3 separate regions of the Homo sapiens genome follow, and all the other regions are linked to region 1. The links come from fine-mapping of genetic effects on plasma protein levels. A gene starts in region 1. Each other region holds a variant in brackets. All regions are shown on one strand. Distances are from middle to middle.

Region 1 (8,174 bases):
CTTTTTGAGTTGATCTTCTACCTGGAACCTGCCGCATCCAGCTGGCTTGACCAGGAAGTTAACACCTCCTCTGGGGACTGTCATGGAGACTAGTATAATAGGAAAGGAAGCCCTCCTTTTGATGAGTTTCCAGACAAGTGTGGCTGCAGCCCAGTCTCGGGAAAAGGGATGAACACACAATTAGCAAAGGGCAAGCGAGTTCAAATGGACTCTGCCTATGCTGGAAATGGGATGCATATATGCCAGAGGAACTAACAAAAAAGAGCAACCAGAGCTGTGTGAGTTAAGTCAAGGGGCTTCCTATAGGAAGTGAGGGTTATATAGGCAGGCATGGATGAGGCTGAGAGGCCATTCTGTATGGGAGGAAAGGCTCACATAAATACGCATGCTGAAAGAACACTTTCTGAGCAGGAGCACTCAAGCTAATGAATTTAGCTAGGGCCAGGCTTTCAGATGAAGAGTAAAGAGAAACGATTTCATGAGATGAGTAGAGAAACTGGCTGGGTAGCCTTAGGCAAGTAACTTCCTTTCTCTGGACCTCAGCTGCCACACCTATGGGATGAAGGTAGTGGGCTAGGTGACTAGGGTACTAGGCTAGGTGACTGGGGTATTGGGTTAGGTGACTAGGGTACTGGGCTAGGTAACTAGGGTGCCAGGCTAAGGTTTTTGTCAGAGAGATGTAGAAATACATAATTATGAGAGAAGTATGTCAGGCACTCGCTCTATGAGAGAGCCACATTTTCATTGTGGAGATGAAGTATCTTGTCCAATATTTTACAGACTGTAAGGGACCAAGCTGGATTAGAATTGGGTTGATTCATTTGCTCAGTATCTTTGGAGCGCCCCTGTGAGCCCAGCACTGTGTCAGGCTCTGGGAGATATAACAGTGAACGAGATGGGGAAGGTCCTGCTCTCATTTTAACGGAGGGAAGTCAGTCAAGAAAAAAAAAAAAGATCTAAGTGAGCAAAATAGGTTTAGATAGAGAGATAGAGGTAAATGCTAGTGGACAAGACAAAACATGCAATCATGATTGTGACTTGGGACTTCTCAGATTGGGCGGTCTGGGAAGGCCCCTCTGAGGGGGCTGTACTTGGGCTGAGACCTGGAGGCTGTGAAGAGGCCAGCCTAGTTGGCGAAGGACAGAAAGGCCAAGCTGGGGGTCTTAGATCTGACAGATGGCTTAGACCCCCAGTCGTCCTCTGGGGGAAGAGCTGCTTTTTAAAAAATTTTCATTTTCATACATTGACAGGGAGTTGCTTTTTATTTTCCAGGGATGTTAAGATCATGGAGGGCAGGAGAAGCGAGAACTCCATGGCGGTTGTGGAGTCCCGTTATGGAAGTGGGACGTGGGAGCCAATGTGAAAGCTCCCGAGCAGAACTGGGAGAGGACACGCCCCAGAAAACTTCAGAAGGTGATGACAGCAATCAGCTTGGAGGGCCTAGCAGAGACTGATAGCACTAGGAGGAGTAATAATAATAGCACATAAGAATATTAGCAGTACTATTCGATAATATTTAAGGAACTTTTAAAATATACCAAGCATTGCCAAACACTTTGGAAGTATAATATTAACTCATTTAGTCCAGGCAGTGGGTAGAATTTGTATCCCCATTTTAATAATGAGAAAAGTGAGGCTTAGAGAGGTACAGTAATTTACCCAAGATTGCACAGCTAAGATCTGGTGGAGGCATGCACACAGGGCCCTCTGACCATGGGCTCTAAATCACTGTACTATGTTCCCTTCCATAGGCCTCAATCAGTCATGTAATATTTGACCTGGTCGTTATCTTAGGTATTATCTAGACCACAGATTTTGGATGCAGTTCTCTGGCTGAAGACCTCTGAGCTAGGATAACCCCTTCTCTTTTGACAGACGAGTCAGAGAATCAGATCAGTGATAGAAGTGGAGTGCCAATCCTGAGTATCACCTCTACTCAAGTGCTCAACATATCCCTAGATCCTCAATTCCCTGGCAAAAGTGATTGGATGGAACCACAGGCTTCCAAGAGGGGACAGTCAAGCATTAAATACGAGAATGCACATATAACTCTTGGTGCAATGTTTAGCACATACTAAGCCTGCAATACATGCTAATCCCTTTGAGCAAATCCACATGGCCAGTTTCTGTGCTCAGGGGTGAGAATAGCTGGGCTGTGATTGGGGCAGGGGGAGCACTAAGTGGGAGGGACTTCCTGTCTCAGGTCCCTGCCATCTTGACTGACATGCTGCAGCCCTTGCCAAAACCCATGGGTCAGAATGAAAGTAAAGTGCCGTTGAAAACCTTGCAATCCACCTTTAAAACTGCCGGGTGTAGTAAAACAATTGCTTGCCCCAAATAAATGACTTATCATTGCTGTTGGTTGTCTGCGTTTCTCTTTAATTATAGGCCCTCTTTGAACGCTCAAACACACAGGGCCTTTGTAAGCTTGAACTCCCTGTCTCACACACAGTCCTCCCATACCCATACACTCTCTTTCATTTGCAGAGTATAAACACCCATCTCTCACTCATTCACATAATGAATTTCAGCTCCTTGTGTCCCAATCAAGGAGAGGCCTCACTGGAATTATGGGCATCTGAGCCATCTTCATGTTCCAAGGCCCCAGGGGGCGCTTCCAAGAGTGGATCCTTTATGGGGAGAAGATAATGGGCAAAAAGTGCTCTTCACTGATGGACCAGTCCCAGCCTTTTCTCTCCTTGGACAATAGAGTTCTTCCCTTGAACAGCCACTTCCCTAAAAAAAATTCCAAAATTCTCCCACATCATCCCCTTTATGCTTAAAATCATCACACACTCCCTTCTTTGTCCTCCCCTCTTGCAAACTCAACTCAGAGCCCTTTGGCTCCAGAAAGATTTTCTAGGTATCAGGAGAGAGTAGCAAAGCCTCCCTCCTCTCCTTGCCTTTCTCCCTTGTCAGAGAAAGAAGTTGATTCTGCGGAGAGGTAAGAAGGATCTTGAGGTCTAGAGCCTGAAAAACTCCTTGGGCTGTTCTCCAAACTAGATGGGAACATAAGGTGCGATTGCATCTTCTCCAGCTGATACTCACTCGGCCTCCTATGCCAGTCCCCAGTCCAGGGTTTGGTCAAGGGTCAAATGAGATAATTTCATGGAGGAAGCCTGGCCCGATTTTTCTACTGTTTGCTGGAAGACAGCCTCTTCCTCTTGTAACTGCAGCCCCAGAACCTGATCTCCACATCCCTGCCAGGCAGGTAGCTGTGTACAAGGGCTCATCTTCCTGCCCCCAACCCCAGCTCTGATTTGCTTATTCAGGTGGTGTAAATACTTCTACCAGGACCTATTTCAAGCCATTGTGATGTCCCTGACTGGGGAGATGCAGGGCAGCACACCATTTAATATTTCCCTCACATTTCCACCCCATTCTGCACTCTTTTCTGGGAGTTGCTGTCTCAGAGGGTTGGCGGTTCTGGTGGCTCAAGACCATAAGTAATTATCAAATACTTAGGAAGCGACGGGTTTTGAGTATTTATTACCTTTTAAAAATGTACTTTGTGGCTAGGCATGGTGGCTCACGCCTGTAGTCCCCGCACCGGGAGGCCGAGGTGGGTGGATTGCTTGAGCTCAGGAGTTCAAGACCAGCCTGGGCAACACGGCGAAACCCAGTCTCTACCAAAAATACACACACACACACACACACACACACACACACACACACACACACACAAATTGGCCTAGCGTGGTGTCGTGTGTCTGTGGTCGCAGTTACTCAGGAGACCAAGGTAGGAGGTAGGAAACCAAGGTAGGAGGATCACCCGAGGTCGGTAGTTCGAGACCAGCCTGACCAACATGGAGAAACCCTGTCTTTACTAAAAATACAAAATTAGCTGGGCGTGGTGGTGCATGCCTGTAATTCCAGCTACTTGGGAGGCTGAGACAGGAGAATGGCTTGAACCCGGAAGGCGGAGTTTGCGGTGAGCTGAGATCGCGTCATTGCACTCCAGCCTGGGCAACAAGAGCAAAACTCCGTCTCAAAAAAAAAAAAATATATATATATATGTGTGTGTGTGTGTGTGTGTGTGTATGTATATATATATATGTATGTGTATATATATGTATGTGTGTGTGTGTGCATATATATATATACACTTTGTTTAATTGTAAGTGTGTTTAGTTTAATTTTTAATAATGTCCGTGATTAACAGCTGGCTGGCAAGATTCCTGAGAACTGAAGAGTTTGCCCCAGCCCATCCAGCACACCATGGGCCCAGGGCAGACCTTGGGGCTAGGCGGTCTTGGGTTCCAGAGGGCTCCCATGCCCCTGTCCTATTGCTCTTCTGGCAATAGGACATTTACGCGGGGGGGGGGGTGGTTCTTGATTCTGGGTCTTTTAGGGGACTCTGTGATTAAGAAACAGCAGGGATGTTGCAACAGCAGGGATGAGGTGGGCCTGGGGACGGGTCAGTGAAGGGTCTTCATTCCTAGCTGCTGACCTGATCTGCCCTGAGATAAAAGACTAAGACCCAGAGAGTGAACGCTGTCCGCGGGGGCAGAAGCGAGTGAGGCGTCGGGACAGTGGGGCATAACCAAGAGCAAAACGCAAACTGAGACTTCAGCGCCGGTTTCTCGGGCCAGCCCACGCCTCCTGCCTCAGCTCAATGCCACTCCCTCCCCGCCAAGTGGCTCTCCGCTCTGGAGGCGGGACCGAGTTCTCCGGTGGCCCCTGGAGGCTCCGGCAGCGAGCTCTGGGAGGCTGGGAGGGGAGTGAGGGGAGGGGCGCTGACTGGGCCGTCCAAAGAGGAGGGGGCCTTTAATAGGCTCGCCCAGCGCCTGGCTTGCTGCGCTGCGAGTGGCTGCGGTTGCGAGAAGCCGCCCGGCACCTTCCGCTAGTTCTCGGCTGCAAATCTTCGTCCTTGCACTTGACAGCGATTGTACTTAAGCTCCCAGGGCGCGCTTTGCTTGGAAAGGCACAGGTAGGAAGCGCGGGCTGCCGGGTGCACGCTCGCCGCCCTGGGAGGAGTCTCCCTCCCTTGGCTCTCCTTTCTGGGAACTGCCGGCTGTCCCGTAGCGTTGGCGGTTCCAGAGTGCGGGCTGCACGGAGACCGCGGCAGCGGCCGGAGAGCCCGGCCCAGCCCCTTCCCACAGCGCGGCGGTGCGCTGCCCGGCGCCATGCTTCTGCTGGGCATCCTAACCCTGGCTTTCGCCGGGCGAACCGCTGGAGGCTCTGAGCCAGAGCGGGAGGTAGTCGTTCCCATCCGACTGGACCCGGACATTAACGGCCGCCGCTACTACTGGCGGGGTCCCGAGGACTCCGGGGATCAGGGACTCATTTTTCAGATCACAGCATTTCAGGAGGACTTTTACCTACACCTGACGCCGGATGCTCAGTTCTTGGCTCCCGCCTTCTCCACTGAGCATCTGGGCGTCCCCCTCCAGGGGCTCACCGGGGGCTCTTCAGACCTGCGACGCTGCTTCTATTCTGGGGACGTGAACGCCGAGCCGGACTCGTTCGCTGCTGTGAGCCTGTGCGGGGGGCTCCGCGGAGCCTTTGGCTACCGAGGCGCCGAGTATGTCATTAGCCCGCTGCCCAATGCTAGCGCGCCGGCGGCGCAGCGCAACAGCCAGGGCGCACACCTTCTCCAGCGCCGGGGTGTTCCGGGCGGGCCTTCCGGAGACCCCACCTCTCGCTGCGGGGTGGCCTCGGGCTGGAACCCCGCCATCCTACGGGCCCTGGACCCTTACAAGCCGCGGCGGGCGGGCTTCGGGGAGAGTCGTAGCCGGCGCAGGTCTGGGCGCGCCAAGCGTTTCGTGTCTATCCCGCGGTACGTGGAGACGCTGGTGGTCGCGGACGAGTCAATGGTCAAGTTCCACGGCGCGGACCTGGAACATTATCTGCTGACGCTGCTGGCAACGGCGGCGCGACTCTACCGCCATCCCAGCATCCTCAACCCCATCAACATCGTTGTGGTCAAGGTGCTGCTTCTTAGAGATCGTGACTCCGGGCCCAAGGTCACCGGCAATGCGGCCCTGACGCTGCGCAACTTCTGTGCCTGGCAGAAGAAGCTGAACAAAGTGAGTGACAAGCACCCCGAGTACTGGGACACTGCCATCCTCTTCACCAGGCAGGTGAGTTGATCTGCCGTCACTTTGCACCCAGATAGTCCCGTTCTTTAGGGTCACCTCCCCTAGCGCTCCAAATCCCCTTTGTATCGTGCAATGCCTCCGAGTTTAAACCTCGTTGATCTCTTCCGACTCCAACTCTGTGGAGTTTCCAGGGAGAGCCCTCTCCCACGCTCCGCGGAGCGGCGGCTCACGTGCATCTGGGCCATTGGAGGAGAGCCTGCGCTTTCCGAAGGTGTTGGCCTGGCGCGGCCAATCAGCGCCTCCTGGATCAGGCGCCGAGGGGCCGGAACCCAGGAAGTTGCCGCCCCGGAGCTGCAGTTTGTGTCCAAGACCGATAGGAGACGCCGTGAGGATGGTGTTGGAGAGGGCGGGAACGGCCCACCCCTATTGTATGGGCGGCTGAGTCTTCTCGGACACCTCCTGAGGTCTCCTTTCAAGGGTTGTAGAACTGAAGGTGATCCAAGGTCAGCGCTTGCTACATTTCTCTCGGGTAACACGTTGTCCCCTCTCTGTACTGGGCCTGGAAAGCCTGGATTGGGGTGGAGGGAATCATTGAGAGATTTTGTGGGTTGCAGTGACAGGCCAGACTCAAGTACTGCGAGCATCCCTCCTTCACTGCCGCTTCTCCTACAGACTTCTCTGCTGGGCATGGTCCAAGAGGCTTCTAGACCATTCTGAGCAGGCGGTGTAGTTAGGGCACCTGTTTGGAGCTGAGACTGTTTCACTTGGAGTTTCAAGTGGAGTTTTACTTGGAGCTGAGTTGGGAAAATCTCTTCCAATTTTCCTGTATCCTTGCTGTCAGAGGGTGACCCGTTTGCCCAGATGTATACTACAGAGCAGAGCGGGCATGCTTGCTCCTGCTCCCAAGTCACTAAAATTCCTATGACCACACTTGACTTCAGGGCTCTAGCTTCTGCCCTTGCTGGGGTGGAAGTGGTGTGAGCTTAGTCAAGAGTATTTGGAGATTCCAGCTGTAGAGTTAGAAGGAAACTGAGTATTGGGATTAGAAAGATGGACCCAGCCCAGGAAGCAGCCCTGCCTTTTGCAAGGCCTTTCCTGATATTCTATGTCAAAGAAGCTACAAATCTGCAAACGTTTAGATTCACAGGTGTTGGAGTGATTGGGCACTGAGGAGTATTTGGATTCTTGAAATTTCTCAGATACAGGAGGCTGGGAGGAAAAGAGCCATCCAAGTGAGCCTCTTCTTCTGATTTGGGGGACTGTGACTTGAATCTGTGCCATGCTCTTTTTTTTGGTTATTATCATAACCACAGCACTCTGGGGATGGCGTGGAATCCTTGGTTACCTGTGGGGCTCTAACTCTCCACTGTTTCCAAATGGTCACTCAAAGTTGGACTGGCGCACACAGTCTGGAGCTGGAGTCTTCCACAGTAACCCATTTGGCACAGCTAGTCCCTTCCTGGAGTCGAACTTCCTCTGTTCCCAGCCTTCTTCTCCTCCCACCACCTGGTTTCTCTAGGGAGGTCTTTGGCCTGAGTCTGTTTCCTTGTGCTCATTCTTCCAACTGAGGTCTGTTGAGCTGCCACTGCCCAGCCTCTGCAAGCACTGCCTGAGTCATGGGGAAGCTGCAAAGGAGGTGGCTTTGACCTCTGCACACAGACCAGCTTGGCAGTTAGATTGCTGGGGCTTGAAAAAAAGCAAAGGCCAAGAACAGGATATCTTAATGGGCAAAGCAGCTGTTGCCCCATTCGTTACCTGGGCTGCCCCAGTGCAGGTCACTCACTGGCTCCAAAATAAAAGACCTCAGCCTCTGCAGCCTGGTGGTGAAGGCTGGCTTCTGGAGTCAGCCCTAGGAGAAGAACTCCTGCTGGGAATAGGGACCATGCCGTCAGAAGGAGGCCGCCTTTTGAAGAAGAAGCAATCAAACAGCATGACAGCTTCTATTTCTCAGTGGTGTGTGCTCAACCCCCCGGGGGCTGTGTTGTCCATGCATAATGGGTACAAGATGCATGACCACTGGATCAGAAGCAGTGATGTGCAAAATGTGACTTTTAGAAGCTGCCTTCCCCTTAGGTGCCTAGAGAGCAAAGCTAGAGAGTGAGGCTTCTGTGTGGTCAGGGCCACCATCAAGGT
Region 2 (8,174 bases), 30 kb after region 1:
TGTGGGCCACGGAGGCCGGCTGCTGGCCCGGGACCAGTGCAACTTGCACCGCAAGCCCCAGGAGCTGGACTTCTGCGTCCTGAGGCCGTGCTGAGTGGGGTCATCGCTTTCTCCCCCTCACTCTCCACCCCACTGATATGCCAGCGTTCTGCCAGCTGGAGTAGCGGGCAGAGGACGGTGGCCAGGGGCTCACGCCACGATGTCACCCACATCCGGGGACAAGGACCATGGGCTGGGGCGAGAGGTTCCCTCCTCCTCCCTGGACTGGGCAGAGGGAAGCCCAGGAACTCCCGCACAGTCTACCTCAGGCCCCGCTCCTCGGGCCGGTTGCGGGGAGAGGCTTTGAGGTGCAGGGCAGAAGGTGCTGAGGCCCAGTTTCCAAGGAACTTGGAGGATGGGCACCTTCCAGGCAGAACTTCAGGGACCCCGGCCCCCAGAAC[G/A]GAGGCCACAGGCTGCTGGAAGAGCCATGTCCCAGCAGCTTGGCACCCTCAGGTGGCCCCATGGGCTCTGAGCCGTGTCTGAACGAGGCAGGGTTTTCACGGTGCTTTTAGCCCACTTTCCTTTTTGAACTGACATGGACTAAGCAATAAAAGCTGGCTGGGGCTGGGCAGAAGCCACGGGGAGAGTGAGATTAGGGCCCCTGGAGCCTGGCACTCCACCTTGGAAGACGTGGACGTGCACAGGGAGTCCCGAGGTTTCTCATCCTGCACTCTTGGCCCTCCTATAAAGAAGCAGCCTCTCCTTCCTCTGATGTGCAGGGTGTAGGACTAGTGGTAGGGCTGCCACGGAAGTGTCCTCTGAGGCTCTGCAGGTAGCGGGGAAAGCCAGTAGGGAGTCTGCTGTCTTCTTCAAGATGGAGCCGGCCATTACAGAAAGATGTTGACATTTGCTAGGGGCTATGCAGTCTGTGGCTGATGCAGGGAGTTTTCAGAAAGTTCTGGAGGGTTCTGCTGTCACTGGACTGGGGTTGGTGCTGAGCTCTGGGCCTGGCTTTGGGAGATGTCACCCTGGGATAGGGAGGAGGAAGCTGCATTTCTAATGGCTTCCTCCTCCAGAGAGGCACGTATATGCAGGCTGACATCCGAGGGTCTGTGTCGCCTCAGACAGCCCTGACAGTGGCCACAGTCCCGTACCCATTGTGAGGGGCTGGGGCATGCCTAGGAGGGCTAGGTGCTGAACATCTATGTGCCTATAAACTCGTCTTCGTTCCAAACAGCTACTGCTGTCTGCCCTGGGCACGTCACGTTGCATCCTAGGCCTTAGCTTCTCCACTGTTTGCTACCTCAGATTATGCCCTCTGGGAACCCAGCCGTATCCCTCCCCTAGGACAGTGGTGACCTGGTCCTTCCACCACACTCAGTCTTTGGAGAGCGAGCTGTCCAGCCACAGAAATGAGGGTGTGGTGCGTGGCTTCCTGCTCCCCACAGCCCAGCCCCCTGTTGGGGCTCCAAAGCCGAAGACAGGGCCTCTTCAGACTCCTTGGGAGTAGGTTTCAGGAGGCACCAAGAATCAATGACTGACCCAGGGGGCCTGGCAGCCACTAGTATGAACTGCTGGAGACCTGTCTGTCTTATAGACATGTCAGGAAAATAGAAACAGGCATTTTCTCTAGCTCCAAGTGGGGAGATATTTTGGGGTCACAGCTTCTTTGGCTAAGCAGGGTGTTTCTTGAAGGTTCAGATGCCCCACTGTGTACATGGGATATTCTGCTTCTGAGTGTAGGTGATGAATCCAGGTCCTCAGTGGAGAATTTTCTGGAGCTAAGATCAAAGCATGTGTCTTCCTGGGAGAGAAGAGTTCCGTTCTTTTATGTGGGTTTCCCTAATAGTCAGAATCCACAAACCAGCCAGCCAGCCAGCCAAGCCTCTGCGATGATGTTCTCATCCGGTCTAACGCTGGGCTGGAAACCTTGGACAGAGTTCATGCGGGGGCAGAGGGGGTGCCAGTCTCTGAGGCAGGGCTGCAGTCACCCCTGAAGAACTAAGTGAACAGGAACCCCTCTGTGCCAGTGACCACTGTGGGGCTAAAGGGACAAAAAGGACCAGGGTACCAGGCAGAAGCAGATCCTTGATAGCTGACGACAGCACTGCGCCCTGTGCTTGGTGCACTCCCTCCTTCAGGAGGAGAGGGTGGCATGGGGTCTGTGCGGGATGGCAGGGGGATTGGGTGGGTGGGAAGAGAGGTGCCATCGGTAGGAGGCTGGCCTCCAGTAGAGGAGAGCAGCTTTTGCCATCAGTCACTTTACAAACCATTTCAAGGAAGGACAACCTCTCTGGCTCCTGACACAAGCCAGGCCTCGGTGCTTTTATCTGTTGTGGTGGTTTTTCTTCTTTCCCTTTTTAAAAGACGCATGACCAAGACAACCTAGGGAGTTTGTCTTGCTTGCCTTTGACTATTTCCTTAATCCAACCATGCTCTCGAGGGCTGAGCAGAGACTAGACTCAAGGCACAGGTTTCTGGTGATGGAGTAAAGTTACAGCGGTATCTCATGTCTACACAAGAAGAGGAACGTTCTGAAAGCTCCAACAACTTCTTGAGGGGGATGGACCAATACAGCTTTGGGCTCAGGATTCCCTAGCCTCCTCTGCCCATCGCGTGCACTGATTGGAGGAGTCTGGCCCAAACACTCTCATATGAACCTCGACATGCTGGAGTGGGGTCTGGCAGGAGCTGATGACAGTTTGAGGGACTTGAGTGTCCCTAGCCTGGCAGTTGGCTCCCGGAAGCACTAGACACTGACACTCATTGGTAGACCCTCCCTCCCCGCCGTTGTGTTTGGTTCTTTTGCACTCCATGTACTGCAGAAGGATGGAAGGACCTGGGTGCTGGCTGGGCTGTGTATACTGTGTATACAAGGGAGCTGGCTGCTGAGGTGACCACAGCCTTCTCCTAATAAAGCTGTAAGTATTTAAAACCTGTGTCCTGCCTCTGTGACTGCTTCTCATTCATGCATGCATTCCTCACATCCATGGAATGCCCAGCTTCGCCAGCCACTGTGCTAGGAGCTATGGAGACAGCAGTGACCTTGACAGGCACAGTCCTGGTCCTGTGCAGCTCCCAGGTTAGCTGAGGAGGCAGAGCTCAAGTCAGCAAGCAGAGAGTTGTGGCAGATCGTGCTACAAGTGAAGGAGACACCAACTGATGCTGAGAGTGGGAGCTTGGATGTGGGCGTTTGATCGCATTTGAACTTTTTCAGAGAGAAGGAGCTGAAAAAAGAAACGAAGAAAAAAAAGCTTGGGTGTGGGAGAGAGTGATCAGGGAAAGCCCCTCAGAGGAAGGGACAACGAAACAGATTGAAGGGTGAGACAGCAGCCCTGTTAAAAGGGGACGGGCCTTGTAGCAGACAAGCAGAAGGCCCAGTCCTGGGGGCCGCTGGGGCGGGGTTTCAGGAGTGCTTGAGAGAAGCTCTGGGGCCGTGCGTGGGTGAAGGGACGAGGCACGGGAGAGGCCAGAGGGGCCCCTGTCCTGTGGGCTTCCAGTCTCCTGCCTTAGGAGGAAACCCCAAGTGTCCCGAGGGAAAGGTTCCTTCTCTTTGGAGAGAGAATGTTTCTCTCTTCCTAGTTTTGTGCTGGTCTGGAAATGTTAGCAAATATACAGGCGTGGGAGAGGTGTGACGCATTGCAAAGAACATCTAGAAACTCGTGTTGGTCGCGGGTCTGAGATCCTCTCTTGGAATCCTCATTTCCTACCTGCAAAGTGAGAAGGGTAGATTCAGTGTTCTATTAGGGCACGTTCAGCTTTAGCAGTCTGGGTTTCTAGGCCCAGTTATGGTTTAGATTTTGCTAGCTGATGGTTTGTTTTCAGTTTGGGGTTCAGAGATGAAGGGGTTTCTCCTGTTGACTTTCCAGCAGGGCAAGGCCATGGGGAATGACTTCCTCTTGAGCTGCGAGAGCTGCCCCTTCAGGCATGTGGGTGAGGGATGTGGGGAGGTTGGACAAAGTTTCAGCACTTGATAGAAGGTTCTGGAAGAAGGAAGAACTAGCCAGAAGAGGCTGCATGAGTCTATGAGCTAGCAGAAGGCCCAGAAGGGAACTGCAGGGGTCTGGGTTAATGTATAAACTGGAAGTCAGCAATTGTAAGATCTTTCTAAAATTGCTCAAAATGTTGTCATATTCCTGGGGTTATTTTTGTAATCCTTTTTGTTTTCCATTGAAGCAATTGCCAGTAAAACCTTTCTAAGGAAAAGGTCCTCTGGGCTGCTTTGGGGATCAGCAAATTAAAGAGGAAGCAGAGGAGGCTGGGTCCCAACTACAGCGGCGCCTGGAGGCTCAGGAGAGCTCCAGGTAAGGCAATGGGGTGTGTGGCGGGCAACAAGCTTGGCTGCATTTTAAAGTTTCTGGAGAAGGAAGCAGCAGTTTCCTAAATTTGCTGGCCTTTGAAGAGAGGTAGGAACGATTTGCTTTGTAATCCATCCTCTGGAGGGGAATGCGTTCTTGCCCCAGTGAGAAAAAACCTTGATAATTACAAAAAGGTGTCGACCCCTGGGTCGTGCTCTGCCTGCCCAGTGAACCCTGGCGAGCCCCCAGCAGGCTGAGCTGGCGTGGCCAAGGGCAGCGCGTGTGACCCCAAGTGTCTTTCCTTTGCTCCTTGGCTTGTCTCCAGCCCTCATGGATGAGTCAGCCCTGAAGCCTGCAATCCCAGCAACAAATCCCAGAAGAGCAGAACATCCCCCTTCATCACTGCCATGGTGTCACCCCTCAGCCCCCGGCAGCTGTGAGAAGGCAGCAGTGAAATGTTTGCTGCTCCAAAGCATGAAACTGGGGAGGGAGAGGGCAGCCAGAAACTCAGCCTTCACCTTCCCCTCCCTTCAGGCCCACCCCTTCGTGCTCAGCTGGGCAGCCCTGCCTTTGTTTTGCTCTCCTGAGCTGTGGTCAGTAACGTAAGTCACGTTCCAAGCAGTGACCAGAATGTTGTGAAGGAGGAGATAAGAGTTCCTGACCTCCCGAGGCATTCCAAAGAAGAAACAGAACTATTTGTTTCCAAAGGAGAACAATTTTAGCAGAAAGGGTAAGATAGAGGGAGATGAAGAGAGGAGGGAATCTCCTCGTGAAAAACTGGATTTGGGAAAAGGGTGAAAATATTGTCATGGGGAATGGCTGGAATTTGATGAGATTTTAGCTGTACTCCTAGGCTGTTAGAAACAATTGCCTTCGTATCATTCCCCGTTCCTGTACCTAGCCACGGTCCCAGACAGTGTCCAGGGCCTTAAGCCACTGCTGTCCCAGACATCTGACCAACAGTTCAGATGACCTCAGGGGACTGGGATTCTGGCCTCAGCAGGGAGTACCCCGAATCTCTGCCATGGGTAATTGAGCAGATACTCCTGATGTGGTTTTGTTGTTGTTGAGGATTTTGAGAAAAGAGCCTTTGAGAGTGCTCTGGAAATGTGTTCAGGAGGATGACATGGCTTTTCTAAGCACCCTCCCTGGGCTGAGTCTGCAGTGCATGGGAACCTGGTTCTGAAGCTGCAGTTACACACAGCACCCAGAGCCCAGGGCTTGGGACACAGTCAGTGGTCAATGAGTATTTGTGACGCAGAGGCTTCCTTGGGAACACACAGTAAACCAAGAGGGATGAAGGAGCCTGTCTCCGGTGGAAATGTGGGGACGCTTCTCAGTGTAGGCACTGTCTGTCTGCATACATGGTCCTGTTTGATCTTCACCGCCTGCCCGGTGCTGCTGCTCCTTGCAGCCCTCTGCTCAGCTCACGCATTTCATACGCTTTCCTTGGGGATCACGTGCTATCTCACTGCTCAGTTAAAACCAACACATCAGTGGATTCTGCGTCTGCATACATAACCCTCCCACCCACCTGTGTTCACCCAGACTCCCCACCAACCCCACACAGACCACCCCAAACATCTCATTATTCATCCAGTCACATGACTTGATTCCACCTCCAGGATATCTTCAAACTTGGTCCCTTTCTTCCTTCCCACTGCTGCTGCTGTAGTGCAGGCCAGCATCATGTCTCACTGGAGTATATCCGTAGTCTGTACCTGTTTTCCCTTGTTTCAGATTCGTCCGCTTTCAATCTTTCCAGCAGGTGTGACATTTAGTGACAGCAGGTGCCCCATCTTGAGCTCTCATGGCACCCTCTGCGTCTTCTGACATTGAGCGAATTGCTTGTCCGTCTCTTTGGCTATACCCTAAAGACCTCGAGGGCAGGCTTTAATTGTCTTGGCACTAAGTGCTTGGCACACAGTAATCATATAATGATAATAGCCATCACCCAGCATTAACTATATATAAGCATTCTATTAAGGTCTTTACTTCTCTTATTGTATTTATTGTTCATAACAACATTATGAATTATATTCTATCACTGCCCCTCCTCGTGTATCAGGAAGCTGAGGATCAAAGATGTTAGGGACCTTTAGATATTCCCCCGACTTGTAAATGGCAGCATCAGGACTCCGAGCCCTGTATTTACTGAAGAAGTTGTAGAATGAACCGCTTAGCCTACTCCTCGAGAAACATTTTTTTGGGGGAGATGGACATGAGAAAATGATTATGATGGCGCATGAGAAGTGCTCCAACAGAGGTATGCTTCTAGATCTATGGGAATTATACACGAAGCAATTGCAGGAATCACTGAGTGGACCTGGGAAGGAGTCAGAGGAAATGATGCTCTTGAGCTGAGTTTTGAAGAATGAATAGAATTTGTTGGGCAGATAAGGAGATTCCTGGAAGTGTGGCCAGCACGTACGATGGCATGGAGGTCAGGAATGAAAACAGCTTGATGTGGCTGGACTGTAGAATACATGAGAGAGTGGTGGGCTTGAAGCCTAGGCTGGGCTGGGGTCTGATCATGGAGGGCCTTCTATGTTGCATTAGGGAGTTTTTGCTTTGTTTGACAGGCAGCAGAGAGCCATGGAAATATTTTAAATCAGACTGTAATTAGCTCACCACTCCAGTGAGCTGGTAGTAAGCATGGACTGGGATAGGAAAAGACTGTTGGCAGAAAGACCAAGTAAGAGGCTCCTGCAATAATCCAGATTTAAGACCATGAAAGCCTGGCAGTGTAAGTGGATTGGAGAGGATGACATAAATTCTAGAAATATCTAGGAGAAGTATGAGCTGGTCTTGAGTGCTAACCGTGTGCAGCGTATGACAATAAAAGCAATGTCAGAGGAAATGCAGATTAATGTTTTCCATCTCAACGACTTCCTTGCTTTACAAAAGAAGTATAAAATTAGGCCATTCCTTGACTCAGAGATATGAGCATGCAACAAGGGCAGGGGAAAGGCGGATGTACTTGACTTCCTCTTGGGATTAAGTTTCTAAAATATGGTACTGCCAGGATTCAGAGGGATGAGATGACTGATGGTTTCTCCTGTTGCTCTCACTTCCAACCACGCCTCCTTACCCACTGCCTTAGTTCCTGGCATCACATCCCTCAACCTCCAGCCTTAGTGTGGTGTGGTTAGCATGGCACCAAGAAGACATGGGCGAGTGAAAGGAAAAAATAGAGACCAGAAAAAACAACAGAGATAGTTCACGTACACTAGTGTGAAATCAACGATATGGTATTTCAAATGTACTTTAGCAGAGGTCGTAGAAACAGATTTATTTTTTAATATACCCCCTGTATCTTTCAATTAACTGTACATTGTGCATAATATATTTCAATACTGGTATCTCAGGATGGGAATAGCAGAAACATATGTTAGTGGAGTTGTATTAACTCTAGGGACAGTATCACTGGGTTACGAGATATTATGGCTCCACGTGTCTCAGCAACATATGTTACCCATAAGGAAGCCTGTGGCTTTAATGTGTAACACACTGTGGACTGGATTGGCAAGCGGATGGGACTTAGGTTGACAAAAACCGAAGATCTTCTGAATGAGAGGTTTATTTTATGTATTATATCTGGGCAAGAAAACCTTCCTGAAGCAATCTGGCTAAATCTCCTTGTTGCCTAATCTCTATCCGAAACGGGGATTCCAATGGTTTAGGCCACTGCTATTTTTTCCCCTAACATCCTAGGCAAGTTTGCACATATAGATTGCCTTCGAGATCATTAGATAAATACCTAGCTGCTGAATGGGAAAGTTTCTGTTAGTTCCCATGAGTCCAGGGCACTATGTCTTGGTAAGTTCACTTTAGTCTTATTTCTTTAAAAGTCACCTATTTAGACATGGCCCGGGTGGCCTGGACGACCACAGCCTG
Region 3 (8,174 bases), 14 kb after region 1:
TCTTTCTTTTTTAAATTTTAATTTTTGTAGAGATGGGGTCTTGTTACGCTGCCCAGGCTGGTCTTGACCTCCTGGCCTCAAGTCGTCCTCCCGCCTTGGCCTCCCGAAGTGCTAGGATTACAGGCCCGAGCCACTGCATCCTGCCTGGTCTAGGCATTTCTGAAGAGCGGGGCCGGGGAACAGGACTCTGAATCTCCACGTGGGTGACTTCCACTTTTCTGAGAGCGAGTGCTGTCAACTACATGACTTGGGTCAGTAGACAAGATGTTCCTTGGGGTTCTAAAAATATGTCATTCTGTGGGTTCCCTTTATAACCTACAGGGCCAGAAGGGGCTGCATGCTCTGGGACTGGGGAAGGAGCAGAGGCTGAAAGCACTGGTTGATTCAGGCTCTAGTTGAAAGTTGGCCCTTCCCCAGAGCAGGAAACCAAGGCCCCGAAGAGAGAGGACTTGGATAAAGTCACACATCTACTTAGTGATAGGGCCAGGACCGGAATCTAGACTTCTTGATTCTTATTTCTGCGCCCTCTCCCTCTTACACAGGGAGCAGTGAGTGTGCAGGGCAGCCCAGAGGCAAGGGTAGGTGCCTGCCCCCGCAGGCTGCAACTGCTAGGCTAGAATGTCCAGAGCTCCAGCCTTGCTGGGTCCTACACCACACCCGTCCTACACCTACATCCTTCACTATGCCCTTGCAAGAGCCTTCATCCCTGCCCTCATCTTGGCTCCCTTCCCCACAGTTCACACGCTGATCCATGTTTCTCAGCTGTCACATTCCCTAAACTGCTGGTCGGGTGAAGGTCCCCTCCCAAGTGTTTTTTTTTTTTTTTTTTTTTTTTTTGAGACAGAGTCTTGCTCTGTCACCCAGGCTGGAATGCAGTGGCGTGATCACGGGTCACTGTAGATTACCCTCCCAGGCTCAAGTGATCCTCCTACCTCAGCCTCCTCCTACCAGCCTGGCCAACATGGCGAAACCCCATCTCTACTACAAATACAAAAATTAGCTGAGCATGGTGGCAGGTGCCTGTAATACCAGCTACTAGGGAGGCTGAGGCAGGAGAATCGCTTGAACCTGGGAGGCAGAGCTGGGATTACAGGTGTGCACCATCATGCCTGGCTAATTTTGTTTATGTTTTGTAGAGACAGGGTCTCACCATGTTTCCCAGGTTGGTCTTGAACTCCTAGACTTAAGCGATCTGCCTGCCTTGGCCTCCCAAAGTGCTGGGATTACAGGCATGAGCCACTGCGCCCAGGCCCCTCCCAAGTTTTGACAGTGGTTGTTTTCTAGGTTTCAGAGCTCTTGGGAAGGAAAACTTTCTGGGAGAGTGGGTCTTTGAAGACGAAAGAATATGGGAAGAGAAGGGCATTTGAAGTCCTCCATGGGGCTCCTAGAAGTGGAGGTAGTGCTTCCAGCAAGCACAGGTGGCAGACCTGGCTGGGTGTGCAGGGCACACATCACTGCCTCTGGTGCACCCGGGTTCAGGCTGGTCACCCTCGGAATAACTGTTCACTCATTAGGAGGTGTGACTATCATCTGACCGTGGGAAGCCAAGTTTGACTGCTCAGGTGGTAAACCTCTGAGTGCTTTGGATTAAATTTTGCTGATTTTCTGTACTCTGACCGCTTTTCCTCCCATGCCCCCTGGCTCCTGGCTCCCTGCGCTGTGCTGCTGCCCACCTTCGCCCCTTGCCAGCATGTACACAGATGCACATGTGGCCTTGCATATACGTGCACATGCATGCAGACACATGCTTCTTTGCCTGTGGAAGGTGGTAGTAATAGTCGTTATTTCAGTGGGATGTTGTGAGGATTAAATAGGGCTGTGTGTGCAAAGTGCATGCACAGTGTCAGCATTTAATACATCATAGCCATGATGAACTATAGGCATGAGCCTAGTTCCCACCTCTGACACATAGATACAATAATATGTCTGCATCATAAGCCTATTGTGAGGATTAAATGAGGTGACACATGTAGCAGCTTCCTGTGAAATGCAGAATGCCTTATGCATTAAAGGCAGCGATGTAATGAGAGAACCAGCATCACTGATTCAACACACATCTTCTGTTTTTTTTTTTTTTTTGAGACGGAGTTTTGCTCTTGTCGCCCACGCTGGAGTGCAATGGTGTGATCTTGGCTCACTGCAACCTCTGCCTCCCAGGTTCAAGCGATTCTCCTGCCTCAGCCTCCCTAGTAGCTGGTATTACAGGCACCTGCCACCATGCTCAGCTGATTTTTGTATTTGTAGTAGAGATGGGGTTTCGCCATGTTGGCCAGGCTGGTCTTGAGCTCCTGACTTCAGGTGATTCACCTGCCTCGGCCTCCCAAAGTGCTGGAATTACAGGTGTGGGCCACCGTGCCTGGCCCAACACACGTCTTCTTAAGAGGAGCAGAATGTACACAAATGTCTTATCCTATTTCCAACTTTTGGGCTTTTAAGTTATCTGAATGTGTTTCTGGCCAACGATGCTCAGTAAGTTCTTTGAGATATCCACCCCGGAAGCCCTATCCTGCCTTTCTGCGTCCCCTGGGAATACTTCCTGTCAGGGTTTTCTGCTGGAGGCCCTAGGTTCTGTGGCCAAGTTAAGCTTCAGTACAAAACGAGGGACCTTCCTGCTTAGGTGGCCATCTCTCTATTTCATGTATCTTTCTTCCTAGCAGCCACTGAGCGTGTGTCCCCTTGAGCTTCTGTAGCCAATGAAACTGTGCCGGGATGGGGTCTGGGGTCCACCTCAATGCTTCCTCCCAGCCTGATCACTGGCATGGGTGGGTCCTTGGCCAGCAGCCCTCTGGCTGAGAATCTTAACTTAATTCATGGTTGGCCAAAAGGCAGCCCAGCAAAGACCGAGGCTGCTCGAAGCTGCCTCTGGGTGGGAATGGGACTGGCTTCCTCCCTGTTGCCTCAGCGAGCCTCCCTTGGCTATGGGAGTCACTGTTTTTCTGGTCTGGAGGGCCGTCTCTCTATAAAGTAGTGGCCCTTGTAGTTTAATTTTGTACCTCCTAATTTCCTCCCAGAGGACCTCCCTGCATAGGGTTTGGGCAGAGTGTTTTTGGTGAAGCCACAGAGCTCTTCCTGGGTTTCCTCCCTCAGCCAGGTTGATTCTGTGAACAGCCCCACAACCTCCTAGGAAGAAGAGCCCAGCTGGAAGGTGCTGGGCCTGGTGAGGTTGGAATGAGATGAGCTGGAATGTCCTATAGGATGTCCTTTCTTCCCTTCAGGTCCCTTCTGTCACTGTCTCTAACTTCGGGCTGGCTTCTGCTTCTCCCCCACCCGGCAGGACCTGTGTGGAGCCACCACCTGTGACACCCTGGGCATGGCTGATGTGGGTACCATGTGTGACCCCAAGAGAAGCTGCTCTGTCATTGAGGACGATGGGCTTCCATCAGCCTTCACCACTGCCCACGAGCTGGGTAAGGCTGGATAAGCTCCTCCTGGGGTCTTCTGGGTTTGCCTGGGGAGCCTGGAGGGTGGGAGACGTGTGTCTTTGCCCCCTTGTGTTCTGAAGCCTTAGGACCCCTTCTTAGGGCACAGTGAGCCTTAGCAGCAGCTTTGTACTTTTTCCGATTGCCCCAGCCCCGCTGGCCAATGACGTGGTTTGAGCCCCTTGGCAGAGTGTCTCAGCACTTAGGCACTGTGGGGACACCATGTTAACGACAAGGAGGTACACTCTGTTGTCAGGGAGCCCACAGCCTGACGGAGGGGACAGAAAACACAAGAACATGATCTTGAGGACATTTGAAAGCAGTCTGTCGATAGTTGGCAATGACCAGCCTGAAAACCTCTGACATGGGCTTTCTAGTTCCCCTGCCCCATTCCTCCCTCCAACCCCCATGTCCTTCCTCCTGCCCTCTCAGTCCTCTTGCCTTACCCCACAGGCCACGTGTTCAACATGCCCCATGACAATGTGAAAGTCTGTGAGGAGGTGTTTGGGAAGCTCCGAGCCAACCACATGATGTCCCCGACCCTCATCCAGATCGACCGTGCCAACCCCTGGTCAGCCTGCAGTGCTGCCATCATCACCGACTTCCTGGACAGCGGGCACGGTAAGCCAGGACGGCGGGAGGGCAATGAGGCCGCCTCGGAGGGGGCTTTGCTGCTGCCCCTGGTGGAGGTGCTCACTTCTCCGTCCTCTGTACATTAGGTGTGTGTGCCCCCTCGGAGCCGGGCTCTGACATGAGTGCATTCCTGTTGCCCTTGGTTCATTATCCCCTTACCATTCAGATTCTGGGCTAGCCAAACCTCATCTTCCCAGCTCATCCTAACGAACGCCCTCGGCTCTCTGCAGGTGACTGCCTCCTGGACCAACCCAGCAAGCCCATCTCCCTGCCCGAGGATCTGCCGGGCGCCAGC[T/C]ACACCCTGAGCCAGCAGTGCGAGCTGGCTTTTGGCGTGGGCTCCAAGCCCTGTCCTTACATGCAGTACTGCACCAAGCTGTGGTGCACCGGGAAGGCCAAGGGACAGATGGTGTGCCAGACCCGCCACTTCCCCTGGGCCGATGGCACCAGCTGTGGCGAGGGCAAGCTCTGCCTCAAAGGGGCCTGCGTGGAGAGACACAACCTCAACAAGCACAGGGTGAGTGAGTGCTGGAGCTGCGCTCGGGGACTGCTGGGAGGAGGGATGGAGACCCGGGGGCCTCGTCTGCCCTTGGTCTTCACCAGGAAGGTGCCTATCACAGACTGGCCACGGGACCAGCACTGTTGCATGGCTGAGCTGTGCCTTCACTGCCCTGTATATAGTCCTATCCCCTTCTTGACTCTAAGACCGGAGAGAAAAGCTATGGCAGGTCAGAGGACTTGGTGAGGCCTCAGACACATGGGGAAAAGCCTTCAACAGGACGTGGGGTCTCAGCCCTGAGCTCCGGGCCTCGTCCTACCTGGGGAGGAGCTCTGGGCTCAAAACTGAACACATAGTGTCAGGAGCGGCTCACTCGCTGGCTCATCCCTTCCTTCTCTCATCCACTCTTTCCCAGTGTGTTCCACACCCAGGGAGCTGGGGACCATGCTCAGGAACAGGGCTCAGAGCTGCAATGAAGCAAAGCCCTGGGCAAGCTTCGGGAATTGGCTGCATTCTGAATCAAGCTTCCATTTCTGTTGCGATTGCTGTTTTTCTTTAGCAGGAACATAGTTGAATAATACTTGTTTTCCCTCCTGATAAATACGAATAGCAACCAAACAAGAACACATTCAGAATGCCAAATATTCTCTGTATATAATAACTTTATCTTGTTCAGGTCTTGTTTTGGGGGTTTTGGGGGTAGGAGAGGGATTTGTACTTTTCCGGGCAGGAATAAGAGGTCTGTTCTCCTCCCGGATCCTGGAGCTGACTGTCCCTTCCCATCCCCTGTTCTCAGCTCGGGGACGACTTGCCTCTGGGCACAGAGGCAGTGTCACAAAAAAGCATCCACCAAGCACATTATCAATTGCCCTGAGATGAGTATGGCACAGAATTATTTAAAATGTTTTTCTGTGTTCTGGGGATACATGTCTAATTAAACCTTCAACCGTTGGCTAGGCAAAAACCCACTGTGTTCAGGGAACTGTGTAAGATACTGTGGTGGTCAGAAAAAGAAATAAAACACAGGCCATGCCTCAGAGAGCTCACAGTCAAGTGGGGAAGCTCGAATTGTAGCTGTGATACAAGACACAGAGAGGCACATGTTATGCGGAAGGACAGAAGGATGAAAATTGTCACGGGAGAACCAGGGTCAAGAGATTAATGATGATGAGAGGGGGCTGAGAAAACTTGGAGGAGGTTGGATTTGAAGAGAGGCTGAGGGATAAGTAGGATCCCTGTAGGCAGAAACAGAGCAAGGCAAGGAGGCGGGCGGTCCTGGGCAGGTCGGAGTGAGCTGCAGGGCTGTGTAGATGAGGGCTCTATGGGAACCATCTTCAGGAAGGTCATTTGGGGCCAGACAGCAGCCACCTTGATTGCCAGGCACTAGAAGGTCCTGAGGACAGGCAATATGTGGCCAGTGCCTCGTCCTGAGAAGATGAGGCTGGAGGATGCAGAGACAAGGTGAGATAATATTGGATAGAGAAAATGCAGTCTGAGAAGCACCATCTTTCCACACTTTCTGGAATTCTGTCTATGATCAGGCAAGATCTACCTCCTCAACCTCTTTTCTAAACAATCCCTTGGCCACCTTGTTTTAACTGAAACTTTCCAGGAAACCTTCATGGAAGTCATTGCCCTCACTGGCTGAGGTCAGATCATAAAGCATGTCTTACAAATCACTGCAGCTCCCACAGATCTGTTTCAGGAATCCCATTCTGACCACCAAGGCCCTGTCTTCCCAGATTACTCCCTCTGGGTTTTGGATTCCAACAATTCCTCAATCCCATCTGGGCCTACAATCTATTGCTACAACAACCTTCCCATCATGCCTCACCCTTCCCATCATGCCTTCCCATCATGCCTCACCCAGTGAGAAAAACATGCAATTGTGCTCACTGGTCTCAGTTTAAATTCATGATCTGAGCTGGGCACATTGGCCCCCACTTGTAATCTCAGCACTTTGGGAGGCTGAGGCAAGAGGATCCCTTGAGCCCTGGAGTTTGAGACCAGCCTGGGCAACATGGCAAAACCCCATGTCTGCAAAAAATACACAAATTAGTGGGATGTGGTGGCAGATGCTTGTAGTTCCAGCTACTCAGGAGGCTGAGGCAGAAGGATGGCTTGAACACGGGAGGCAGAGGTTGCACTGAGCCATGATCACGCCACTGCACTCCAGCCTGGGTGACAGAGTGAGATCCCATCTCAAGGAAAAAAAAAAAAAAGAAAAAGAAAAAAGTAAAATAAATTGATGACCCAGAAATTTAGGTGGGCCCATAATGCTGTCCAGGAGTCATATATTTCATTTCCCCAGTTGGCTTACTCTCCCAACCTCCTGAACCGTTAGTTCACACCCACCATCACCTCTCTCCTCCCATTACTAACTCTTTCTTCCTCCTTTTCAGCTTTCACTGATGACCTTTCTTCTCATTTCCCGACGGGGGAAAAAACCAAGTAATCAGAAGGGAACTTCCACCCACCTCCCGACCTGCTTCCGCACCTGTTCTCCACTGTCCCCCTTTACAGTGGCTGAATTGTCCCTGCTGTGATCTGAGGCCATGCTGTGTGCTTTGCGCGGGAACCCCATCCCCTCTCGCTTGTTAGGGACATCGCTGATCAATTCTCTCTCTCCTGCAGTGCCAGTATTTCCCAATCTTGAGCTGAATCATGCCTTTTAGAATACAAACCTGTTGTAATTTCTCCCATCTGAAACAAAACTTCTTATGATCCCACTTCCTCTGTGGTCTGTTTCTCTGACTCCCTTCACAGCAGGTTCCCGGAAGGAGTTGTACAAGCTTGCTGTCTCCAATTCCATCTTCCCACTTTTCTCTGCTGCCCATTCCAAACAGGCTTTGACTGACATCATTTCTCCAAAACAACTCTTATTAAGGCTACCAAATGGCCTGCACACTACGAAGGTCAGTGACTGTTACCTTTCCTCCCATCGTCCAGCCGGCTAGCAGCATTTCTGGCAACCCAGAGCTCTGGGCCCTGGAACAGGGTCTCCACTGCCTCTCGGTTGTCCTCCTCCTCCTCACGCTGCCCCTCCCCTTCTCATTACCTTTACTGCTTCTTCCTTGTACTCTCATTTTCTTTTTTCTTTTCTTTTCTTTCTTTTTTTTTTTTTTTAAGACAAGAGTTTCACTCTCGTTGTCCAGGCTGGAGTACGGTGGCATGATCTTGGCTTACTGCAACCTCCACCTCCCGGGTTCAAGCGATTCTCCTGCCACAGCCTCCCCAGTAGCTGGGATTACAGGCGCCCGCCACCACACCTGGCTAATTTTTGTATTTTTAGTGGAGATGGGGTTTCATCATGTTGGTCAGGCTGGTCTCGAACTCCTGACCTCAGGTGATCTGCTCACCTCGGCCTCCCAAAGCGTTGGGATCACAGGCGTGAGCCACCGCGCCCGGCCTGTACTCTCATTTTCTGAAGTTTGGAGTGCTTCGGCACTCATTCCTTTCCCTCTTCACCATCCACACTCAATCTCTTCGCTGATTCATCTAGACCATGGCTTTAAATACCATTTAGAGCTTGAAGACTCCCAAATTTGCATCTTCAGTCCAGGCCTCGCTCCTGACCTACAGACTTGCTTCTCTAAGGGAATCTGGACGTGTCCATTGGACACCTG

Direction of the effects. Positions count from the first base shown, and alleles are read on the strand shown. Strength reflects both the effect of a copy and how common the allele is.
As copies of A replace G in region 2, the plasma level of the protein whose gene starts at base 4,798 in region 1 goes up (weak association).
As copies of T replace C in region 3, the plasma level of the protein whose gene starts at base 4,798 in region 1 goes down (weak association).

What was found. PIP is the chance, under the fine-mapping model, that this variant and not a neighbour inherited with it causes the effect. Protein levels are from antibody-based Olink assays in UK Biobank. Linkage for the fine-mapping came from a reference panel and not from the study's own genotypes, which makes the PIPs less certain.
Region 2: its variant is fine-mapped to the plasma level of the ADAMTS15 protein (UK Biobank, PIP above 0.99).
Region 3: its variant is fine-mapped to the plasma level of the ADAMTS15 protein (UK Biobank, PIP above 0.99). The variant lies in the coding sequence of ADAMTS15. If it changes the protein, the assay may bind it differently, which can mimic a change of level.

What each region holds. Positions count from the first base shown.
Region 1 is chr11:130,443,848-130,452,021 of GRCh38, forward strand. It overlaps ADAMTS15 (ADAM metallopeptidase with thrombospondin type 1 motif 15), which reads left to right and starts at 4,798. Exons shown (of 8, transcript NM_139055.4): 1 at 4,798-6,083. The coding sequence starts at 5,127. RefSeq lists an enhancer at 7,767-8,174.
Region 2 is chr11:130,473,728-130,481,901 of GRCh38, forward strand. It overlaps ADAMTS15 (ADAM metallopeptidase with thrombospondin type 1 motif 15), which reads left to right. Exons shown (of 8, transcript NM_139055.4): 8 at 1-2,918. The coding sequence ends at 94. Among named protein-coding and RNA genes, the nearest start is that of ADAMTS15, 29 kb to the left of the region's middle. RefSeq lists an enhancer at 3,960-5,159. The variant G/A (reference allele first, on the strand shown) is at 441.
Region 3 is chr11:130,458,215-130,466,388 of GRCh38, forward strand. It overlaps ADAMTS15 (ADAM metallopeptidase with thrombospondin type 1 motif 15), which reads left to right. Exons shown (of 8, transcript NM_139055.4): 2 at 3,275-3,407; 3 at 3,873-4,040; 4 at 4,283-4,566. Among named protein-coding and RNA genes, the nearest start is that of ADAMTS15, 14 kb to the left of the region's middle. The variant T/C (reference allele first, on the strand shown) is at 4,348.